3 linked regions of the Homo sapiens genome follow. The protein of the gene in region 1 interacts with the protein of each later gene in a biochemical or structural test. Each region holds a gene or a part of one and is shown on either strand. Other genes may lie near its edges. The genes, in order: ASF1A, TLK1 and CHAF1B.

Evidence for each region.
Region 2: of the proteins of ASF1A (region 1) and TLK1, one has a biochemical effect on the other in vitro, tested with the Homo sapiens proteins (3 studies listed by BioGRID).
Region 3: the proteins of ASF1A (region 1) and CHAF1B form a complex in vitro, tested with the Homo sapiens proteins (2 studies listed by BioGRID and IntAct).

What each region holds. Positions count from the first base shown.
Region 1 is NC_000006.12:118,904,147-118,907,063, reverse strand, and holds part of ASF1A (histone chaperone ASF1A), read right to left. Parts: intron 1,413-2,917; coding exon 1,236-1,412; intron 1-1,235. UniProt on the Homo sapiens protein: Histone chaperone that facilitates histone deposition and histone exchange and removal during nucleosome assembly and disassembly.
Region 2 is NC_000002.12:170,993,462-170,996,903, forward strand, and holds part of TLK1 (serine/threonine-protein kinase tousled-like 1), read right to left. Parts: intron 3,300-3,442; coding exon 3,192-3,299; intron 496-3,191; coding exon 319-495; 3' UTR 1-318. UniProt on the Homo sapiens protein: Rapidly and transiently inhibited by phosphorylation following the generation of DNA double-stranded breaks during S-phase. This is cell cycle checkpoint and ATM-pathway dependent and appears to regulate processes involved in chromatin assembly.
Region 3 is NC_000021.9:36,412,744-36,416,400, reverse strand, and holds part of CHAF1B (chromatin assembly factor 1 subunit B), read right to left. Parts: intron 3,518-3,657; coding exon 3,086-3,517; intron 1,107-3,085; coding exon 1,012-1,106; intron 127-1,011; coding exon 35-126; 3' UTR 1-34. UniProt on the Homo sapiens protein: Acts as a component of the histone chaperone complex chromatin assembly factor 1 (CAF-1), which assembles histone octamers onto DNA during replication and repair.

The sequences.
Region 1 (2,917 bases):
AGCTACTATGTTGTTTAGATTGGTATGTTTTCAAAGGAAAATGAAAAATTGTCAAATACAACTTATTATTAATGGTTTCCTACACCTTTTAAAGATGGCTCATTCTTAGAAACAGTCCTGTTTCTTTTGTGCTATATAAGGTGCTTCAGGGATAACAAATTGGATCAATGGAAGGTACAACAAGGGTGAAAAATAGTCCGGCCTTATTATCAGAAAGAACATGAGAACATTCTATTCTATTGTCATGTAATTTTTCTTGCATGGTTCAACTTCATTTACTCTGCACTCTCACAAAATCACCAGTTACCAAACTGTTATAGTTCCCAGTGAAAAATCAGAAAATACTAAGTATCTTTAAGAATGCTGAATCCTAGATTTCAGCTTCTCACTCAGAATTTAAGCTGTTTTCAGTACCAGAAATATTTAAGACTGTTAGTTTAACTTCTAAGAATAGCAGATAAAGCGTATAGGTGTTTTGAGATAACCGTATTCATAGGAAAAACAAACATAAAACTTTCATAATTTTGGGAAGAGTTACACACAAAAATATCATCATTGAATAATTAGTACAACAAAAATGCATTTGTTTGTCCTAAAGGTTGAAATGAACAGAATCATGATGGGAATAATCAATATGGGAAATGCTATAAAGAAAGCCATAAACAAAGGCCTGTCTTACAAGAAGTACTTTCTCTGGGCGTGGTGGCTCACACCTGTAATCCCAGCACTTTGGGAGGTCAAGGTAGGCAGATCACTTGAGGTCAGGAGTTGGAGACTACCCTGGCCAACATGGTGAAACTCCACCTCTACTAAAAATACAAAAATTATCTGGGCGTGTTGGTATACACCTGTAGTCCCAGCTACTTGGGAGGCTGAGACAGGAGAATCGCTTGAACCTAGGAGGCAGAGGTTGCAGTGAGCCGAGATCATGCCACTGCGCTCCAGCCTGAGCAACAGAGCAGGAAACCATCTCAGAAAAAAAAGAGGTACTTTCATTTTTCTAAACCAGAAATGCTCAAGGTGTCTGCCTACATTAATTACTAATGACTCATCTGAAGGTAGGGTTTGAAGTCATCCATGGTAATGGAACAATAATTAGTTTGCCCAGTTGGCATAAGGACCTCATATTTATTTTATCTCAAAGCCATTTTAATAGTATACTATGAAATTGCAATAGCAACTGCTTTAAAAATTGCATAGTAAAAGTAGTTAAAAAGGAATAGTAAGAACATTACCTTAGAAAAGTCTGGTTTTACTGGTGGATTTTCCCTTAATTCTGTCTCAGTATATTCATTATTTACATAATAGCCAACTCTAATAAATTCTTGTCCTCGATAGGTACAAGTAATTAGCACAACAGTTACGCCTACTGCATCTGCATCTGGAATGAGTCCTGGATTAGGTGCATCAGCCTAGAATAAATTAAAAAGAAAAGAAACACACACACACAAAAGGCTGTTAGTGGCAGGCAAGACTGGAGTTTCAGTTACCTAGAACCATCAGTTGAGGATGCAACAAGAAAAACTTGGAAATCATACTGGGAAGGAAAATGCTCATTTCTGACTGACTTATAATAAGCTGGAAAAGACAGTTCATGTTTTGCCACAATATATGTAAGGACCCTTGATACTTGAAAGCATGACTACACTTGTAAAAGGAAGAAATTCTGGCTACACTGCATGGTGGTTCATGAAAGGATTATACACTATTCATTATAAAACCTTTATAGTCAGCAATTGATTTTAACCTTTTCAGTCATAATTTTCAGACCTAAATTAGTAAGTATTAAATGATCTCCTCATAGACTGTTGGCCACAAATGTTTATTATACCAGTTTCCCTCTTCAACCCAGGATACTTATATTCTCATACCCACTCAACCACCCCCACAGGTATTCTAATAGTAAATTAGTATAAAACTGAAAATGAGGTTGGGTGTGGTTGCTTACACTTGTAATCCCAGCACTTTGGGAGGCCAAGGTGGGTGGATCATGAGGTCAAGAGATTGAGACCATCCTGGCCAACATGATGAAACCCCATCTCTATTAAAAACACAAAAATTAGCTGGGCATGGTGGCGGGTGCCTGTAGTCCCAGCTACTTGGGAGGCTGAGGCAGGAGAATCACTTGAACCGAGGAGGTGGAAGTTGCAGTGAGCTGAGATCGCACTACTGCACTCCAGCCTGGCGACAGAGTGAGACTCCGTCTCAAACAAAACAAAACAAAACTGAAAATGAGATGGAAATAGCTACATAGCAGATTTTCAAAAAATATTAATAATCCTCTATTATGAATAGTTACTTTGCTAGACTCTACAATATAGTATGCTCTTTAAACCACACATAATGTGGAAACCAGTGAAGGTAAGGATTGCTTTAGGCAGATGTCAAAGACCTTGTTTTAAATCAAGCTATTGTAAGGTGAACCTTGAGGAATGCAGAAAGTAAACTGAGTTAGACTAGACTAAGAGCATGAGCGAAGGGCAGGGCCCCATCCGTGGTAGGGTGCAGGTAGTAATGAGACGACCGGATGGAAGGAGCCAGACTGGGGAACACAGGCAGTGATGGCTGAGGCATCTGAGGCAGCCATTCTGGGTGGTAAATGGATCAAGTCCCAGCAAATTAGCTTACCTGTTGCCAGGGCACCAAGGAATATTCCTGGGCCTAGATGAGCACTTTAGCCAATGCCTTAGCTTGTGAAAATTGAAGACTGTTGTTTACTGTATGCCTAACACAGGTAGATGATACAAAAAGGCATAAAATCGCTACCTAGTGTCCTAGGCTAAAAACCTCAGTCAGCTTCACTCCCTTATCTCCTACATCTAGTCAGTCTCAACATTTTTTTCATTTCTGGAGGCTGAATTCATGTCATCTCCTATCTGGAATATTGCTTAGAATTTTCTAACTGATCTCCCCAGCT
Region 2 (3,442 bases), on another chromosome or scaffold:
TTTACAGTGTTCCCCCAAATAAACAAAATTTTTTTCCTCTATCTTAACATGGTATTCCTGTTTCTGTGTAACAGGCAGTCATCCTTCCTTCACTGCTCAAAATTATAGTCAGAAGTGTGCATTTATTCATTGTCCATGATCCTCTCTCATACAAATGACACTATGAGGAACTTCAGTTCACAAACAGTTCTTAACCACGTCTTGTGTAAAAAAAAAAAAAAAAAAAAAAGAAAAAGAAAACAAACACTCAAATGCTCTCAAACTTAAGTGTGCATCTGGAAGCAAATTCAAAGATATCATGCCAATCTTGGAGGAAAGTCAGTAAGTAATTATGCTTGAAGAAGGGGGTGTAGGGGATGCTGTCAGCCCAGCCATGTGTAGGTTTCCTGAAGAATTTGATCTTCTCATGTGTGGGAGAAGGTATGGGTCATTTGCCAGCTGGTGCACATCAAATCGATCTTCTTTTCGATATGCCAAACAGCGTCTTATAAATGCCTCAAAAAGAGAAAGGAAATGTTAGCAATTAATGATCTTTTTCCCTTCTAAATATCAATCAACTGAATCAGCAGAAGGATGGACACATTTAAGACATAAGTAGATCTCATTTTATTGGAAGTTCAAACCTTAAAAAAAAAATTCTGTAGCTAGAAAATTCTCACTCCAAATGCAACTCACTGCTTGAAGCCCCTGCAGTGGTTCACTTTACAGTCTAAATTACTACTGCAACCATTTGAACTTATACTGGAAAGTTGTTTCTGCTTACGAAATTCTGAAGACTTTTTTCTAGCATTTTTCTTCTGCTAAACAGTCCTCCCACCCTCATCCCATTTTGTTATCACTTCAGTTTAGCAAAGGGTAAGATGCCATTTTCAACCATTATTTTTTTTTCCTACTGACATAAAGACTTTCTTTAGATGAAGAGATCACTGAAGGGACACTTTCATTAGGGACATTGTTTCCCAGGTTAACCCTATGCATCATTACACTCCTGGAAAAGCTAAATAAACAGAATATAATCACTATTTTTTTTTTCTCAAACCAATTTTACTCAGTTTTTCTTTGAGAATAGCCTCTTACAAAAAAAAAAAAAACCTTTCCTGAAGTGTAACACATTTTTAGAAATGCACACAAATCGTTAAGTGCATAGCACAAAGTAAATACATCTATGTAACTGGCAACCAGATCAAGAAAAAGAACCTCTGAATCCCCCTCATGCCCAGTTCCAGGCACTGGCTCTGTCCCCAGTCGAACCTGGGTTAACCTTTATCTTGACTTCTAAAACCATAGTTGAGTTTTGATTGTTTGAATTTTATATAAATAGAATTATAAATTATGTTCTCCTTTGCCAGGCCTCTTTCACCCAATATTAAATTTTGAGGTTCATCCTTTTTTGGGGGGGGAGGGAACAGATAAAATATTCTCAGGAGGTAACTGGTAATTGTTTCCCTTTCTTAATGCTGACACTAGAAATTAATACATACCATTAAACAGAAGTATAATCACATTAAAAGGTAACTATTTTGCACTTTCTTTGCTTTGAAATTCATTAGAAGTATATTTTTCTCTAAAAATATACCTAGCTATTCTCATTTTACCATAGCTTACTGTTTATTGGAAGTCAATCTGATCCCTTAGAGGACTTATCTTTTTTATCTTTAACAAAGTTTCAGAGATCACTTTGAAAAATGATTAAGAGGGAAAAAAACATCAAGACTGATATGTTAGAGTTTGAGGAGTGGAAAGGCTATCAATAGCAAGGTTAAGGTTAAGTCTGCAACAAATAATGTACTTAAAGATGCCCACACCAAGTCAGGGAAAGTACTTGGCAAAGGTATCTTCTGTAGGGATACAGAATATAGAGATATTATATATTACATTAAAATATTAAAATTTATATCATATAATTGTATCATATTAATATTATATCCCCCCAACAACCCCTTAACCCTTCCTGGATTCCAGATCTCTAAAAGGTGACTGTGGTGCCTATTAAGAGCCTAAGGAGAGAACCAGGAATGGCTAAATGAGACTTTGCCTTTGGCAACTCCACTCCTCCTGGTCTTTTCAGTCAGTATTAAACAAACAGATCATGAATCAACTAAATTCATTTAATTTCTGTTCTCAATGAGGCTACAGACAGAAAATAAGACAAGATTTAGATGTCAGCACAGTTAAAATATTTTTAAAGGAGTCATATTTATCTTACAAAAATAATTCATTTTGCTTTCAAATAAGAATATTTATCTCTTTTGTTTTTTTGAGAATGGGTCTTGCTATGTCGCCCATGCAGGAGTGCAGTGGTGCGATCTCACCTCACTGCAACCTCTACCTCTTGGTCTCAAGCGATCCTCCCAGCTCAGCATCCTGAGAAGCTGAAACTAAAGGCACGGGCCCCTACACCGGGCTAATTTTTGTATTTTTAGTAGAGATGGGGTTTCACCATGTTGCCCAGGCTGGTCTCGAACTCCTGGGCTCAGGCAATCTGCCTGCCTGGGCCTCCCAAATTGCTGGATTACAGGTGTGAGCCACCGCGCATGGCCTATTTGGTTTTTTTGAGACAGGGTGTCACTCTGTCCCCCAGGTTTGAGTGCAGCGGTATCGTCATGGCTCACTGCAGCCTTGACCTCCCTGAGCTCAGGTGATCCTCCCACCTCAGACTCCCAAGCAACTGAGACTCTAGATGTGTGCCACCACGCCTGGCTAATTTTTGTATTTTTAGTAGAGACCGGGTTTCACCATGTTGGTCAGGCTGGTCTCAAACTCCTGACCTCAGATGATCTGCCCGCCTTGGCCTCCCAAAGTGCTGGGATTACAGGTGTGAGCCACCACGCCCAGCCTTATTATTACTTTTAATATTTCTTATATACTTATATATCTCAGTATTAACATAAGCAGATAAAATAATACATAAAAGGTAATGATGAGCCCAGATCTTGTGATTTTTCCCTAATTTTCAAAGTAGCAGCTGATGAACATAAACAATCAGAGACCATAGCTTAAAAGATAAAAACTATAGCAACCAGAGGCTGATGCAACTCCTTCTCTGAAAGTAAATCACCAGCCCCTGCTGGACAGATCCCCTGCAGCAGCGAGTCTTGTGACTTTACTTACTGGAAAGTACTTACCTTGTTGTCAGCACAACTGATGAAAGAAAAGTTACTTCACAAAACTCATTTACAAAAATTTAATACCTTGGCTTCACTGCTTACAACCGGTTTTACAGGGAACTGGACTTCTGTGGCTTTTAATATTGTATTTTCTTGAAGAATGTCTTGTTGAGATTGATTGTGACCAAATGGCTTAAAAAAAAAATTAAATGTTGAGATACTTTTCTCACAAAATATTTAAACACAGATATCATTTCTGTTTAAGCGAATTCCCAAAACCGAAAATCCAAATATCTTGTGTTCTAAAATCTTCCTCAGTTATTTGAAACCTGAGA
Region 3 (3,657 bases), on another chromosome or scaffold:
GCCTGGTAGGCTTCGAGCAGAAGCCGAGGTCCCATCAAGGGTCCAGACTTTCCGTGCCTCCTTTGTTTTCATCGAGTCTGGGCCGCTTTAGCTCTGGGGGACTGCCCTGAGCGTCTCCAGGCGTCTCTGCAACATTAACAAACATAAGGTTGGCAAGTAAATGAAGAATTCTGGAAGTCAAGGGCTGACATTTACAGAATACAGAGCCAAGACACGGAACTGAGCTGCCTGGCAAGATCCTATACTGATATAATGGAAGTTCTATAGAGTGGCTCTCAACCAGGGGCGATTTTGCCTCTCAAGGGACAGTGGGCAATGTCTAGTGGCATTTTTGAATGTCATGGGCAAGCTGGGCGCGGTGGCTCACGCCTGTAATCGCAGCACTTTGGGAGGCTGAGGCGGGTGGATCATTTGAGGCCAGGAGTTCAAGACCAGCCTGGCCAACGTGGTGAAACCCCCGACTCTACTAAAAATACAAAAATTACCCGGGTGTGATGGCGCACGCCTGTAGTCCCGGCTACTCGGGAGGCCGAGGCAGGAGAATTGCTTGAACGTGGGAGGTGGAGGCTGCAGTGAGCCGAAATCGTGCCACTGCATTCCAGCCTGGGCGACAGAGCAAGACTGCATCTCAAAAAAAAGAAAAAAAAAAAAAGAATGTCATGGGCAAGAAGTAGCAGCCGGGGATGCTGTTAAACATCGCATAATACACAGGACAGTCCTCCACAACAAAGAATTGCCTGGCCCACAAGGTCAGCAGTCATCAGGTGGAGAAACCTGAGCTAGACAATCTCCTGCTGAACCCACTCCCTGGCTCACCAGGATGCTCTCACTGGCCAGGTGCCCCCTGCTGAGGCGTAAACAGGCAGCCGGCGGGTTTAAACAATGGTTCCAATAAGATGCATCCCTGCTGTCTCAGAACTGACTTAAAATTAGGCGGCATTAATTTCCAAAAGAACAAAAGAAAAGATACTCTACCTTTCATTATATTAAACCAGTAACAATATTACTTACCTGACTGAATTTCTTCTGTAGAAGGGGTGGAAATCACACTGGTTGGTACAGAACTTGGTGGAGTGTCCGTCTTTAAGGGTGTTAAGTTTATTCTCCTTGATTTAAAAAAAAAAAAGTAGAGGGGTGATGGCTCATTAGTATCACAGGAATTGTTTATGTATGATACCAACCTTCAAAACTACCAAAGGAAATACTTAAATTTTCAGCTGAACTTCTGGTTCAAGGCATTAAATAGTAAGATGTGCCCACTTGTTTAATAACTGAGGATTACATTCATGTATTAAGTTAAACCATCACATTTATAACAGTCAACTTAAACCATAACCAGTCATCGAAAAGTTTCAAAACCTGTGTTCTGTTCATTACCGACGGTCTTGTGAACACTCTGCTGGCTGCTGTAAAAGGCAGTCAGATATGGTTTCTATATATAGAAAGCGTCGAAACACAGGTAATACTTTTTTAAAATCCAGAGCGTTGGGCCGGGCAAGATGGTTCGCACCTGTAATCCCAGCACTTTGGCGGGCTGAGGCGGGCAGATCACTTGAGGTCAGGAGTTTTCGACCAGCTTGACCAACATGGCAAAACCTCGTCTCTACTAAAAATGCAAAAAGTCAGCCAGGCATGGTGGCGCATGCCTGTAATCCCAGCTACCTGAGAGGCTGAGGTAGGAGAATCACTTGAACCCAGAAGGCGGAGGTTGCAGTGAGCAGAGAGCATGCCATCGCACTCCAGCCCGGGCAACAGAGCAAGACCCTGTCTCAAATGAATAAATAAATAAATAAAAACCCAGAGTCTTAATTTTCAACAACTATTCTTGTTTGCAAAAGATTACATCTTCAAGAAGCTTGGTAAATAATTCAGAAGAAATCAAGAGGGGAAAAATAATTTAATACCAAAAATAGTTCAAGGAATACCTTCCGTCACATAAAAACAAACAGAAAAATTGTAAAATACATTGCTAATCTGCAGAAAGAAATGAGAGATTTTAAGAGGGCGTTAAAGCCAGCAACCCATACACATATTATGAACTTGCCAAAGAAGACCTATTGGCGCAGGAGAGGCTGAGAGGCACAGGGCGCTTCTGTCCAGCTCACCATCCCCACCACTCCCCTCTGCATCCCCCTTCCCAGCTCTCCTCGTGACTCAGTTTATGGGAAGGTTGGGAGGCAGAGGGCTTGGTGGAGAAGGAACTATACAGGATCAGAGGGGTAACTGGACATCAGCTGCAGGGGAAGAATGGAAACAGGAGGCTGTGCTGCCTGACGGCAGAAGGATGTGCTAAGTGGCTCTGTATCCAGTAGAAGTGGCAGACACAGGCGTGCGTGCCAGCCACACTGATGTAAGCAGGGAAGAAACGACTCTGCACCTCCTGGGGATTATTTGTTATCAGATCAGGACCTCCGTTTCTCACCGACCAGGCTGCTGGAGACATCAAACGCAGTCTCAGGAAGACACTCCTGGAATTGCCTACATCCTGGGCAGAACAGCATAAATAAAAAATGGGACCTGCTTCCTGTCCTTGGGGGCTCACAACCAGCAGGGGAACTGGAGCATCAAAGCACCTGCTATGGAATCTGATGTGTGGTGACAAGGGAAAGGCTGAAGGGCCACAAAGACTGCAAACAGAGAGGGTACATTGAAATGGGTCTTTCAGGAGACTCCTGGCATCACCAAGAGGAAGAGGTGTCCAGGGCTTCCCCAGAGAAGGGAAGGACAGAGGCCTCAAAGGGCAGAGAGTGCTCTGGGAAGATGACATTCAGGACTAGGCCGGAGATGAAGGCCACAGACTCAGGAGAGAGAGTGGCCACAGTCCTGGATGACAGGCTGCAGCCAAATCACAGTCTGTGTGTGTGCATAGGAGCCTGGGCTTTATCTGACAGGCAGAAACTGGAGGAACAAACAGAGGCCTATATGCAAGAAATGACACTCTCGGATTTGAAGTTAAGAATCTCTCTGGCAACCTACTGGCATGAAGCATTCACCGCCTGAAATTTCACCTGCAGCAGGGTGGGAGCGTTCTGTCTGCATTTTGTGTTTCATTTTGCAATGACATCTTGTTCCAACAAGTTCTTACCGGGGTGTTGTCTTGCTCCAGGCTTGCAGTGTGTTCAGAGTGACCCTCCGGGATGGGTGGGCTTTTGTGTTTTGACTACTGGGCTGCAGGGTCTTCTCCTCCGAAGGCCCCGGCAAGGGGCTTTTGACAGCAGGAGTGATGGAGGGAGGGTCCCTGATGACTGTTGGGGCTGGGGCCTGTCTGGCCTGAGGGGGAGTCGTGCCGGGGCTGCTGGGGTCTTGGGTTCTGCTGGCAGGGGTTCCCTCTACCGGTCTGGGTCCTGGCGAAGACCCTCGATGTGTCTGACTCTTGGTTTTCTTTGCTGTATCAGGAGTTCTCATGTTCAAAACTGGCTTCTCTTTCAAAGGAATTCCAAGTTCATCTTTCTCAAATGTCACAAATGAGCAGTAACCGTCCGTGGAAGAAATGGCCAGGAAGGCACCATCGCTGGACCTTCGTCCCCAAAACAGGGAAAAGTTACAGACCTTACCAACACTCTCACATCTACTTAGAAGAGGGAAGTTCGAGCAAAATCACAAGCTTGTTTGAAGGCAAAAACCAGGGAAAAGATACAACTGGAAAAGAGTGTGTGA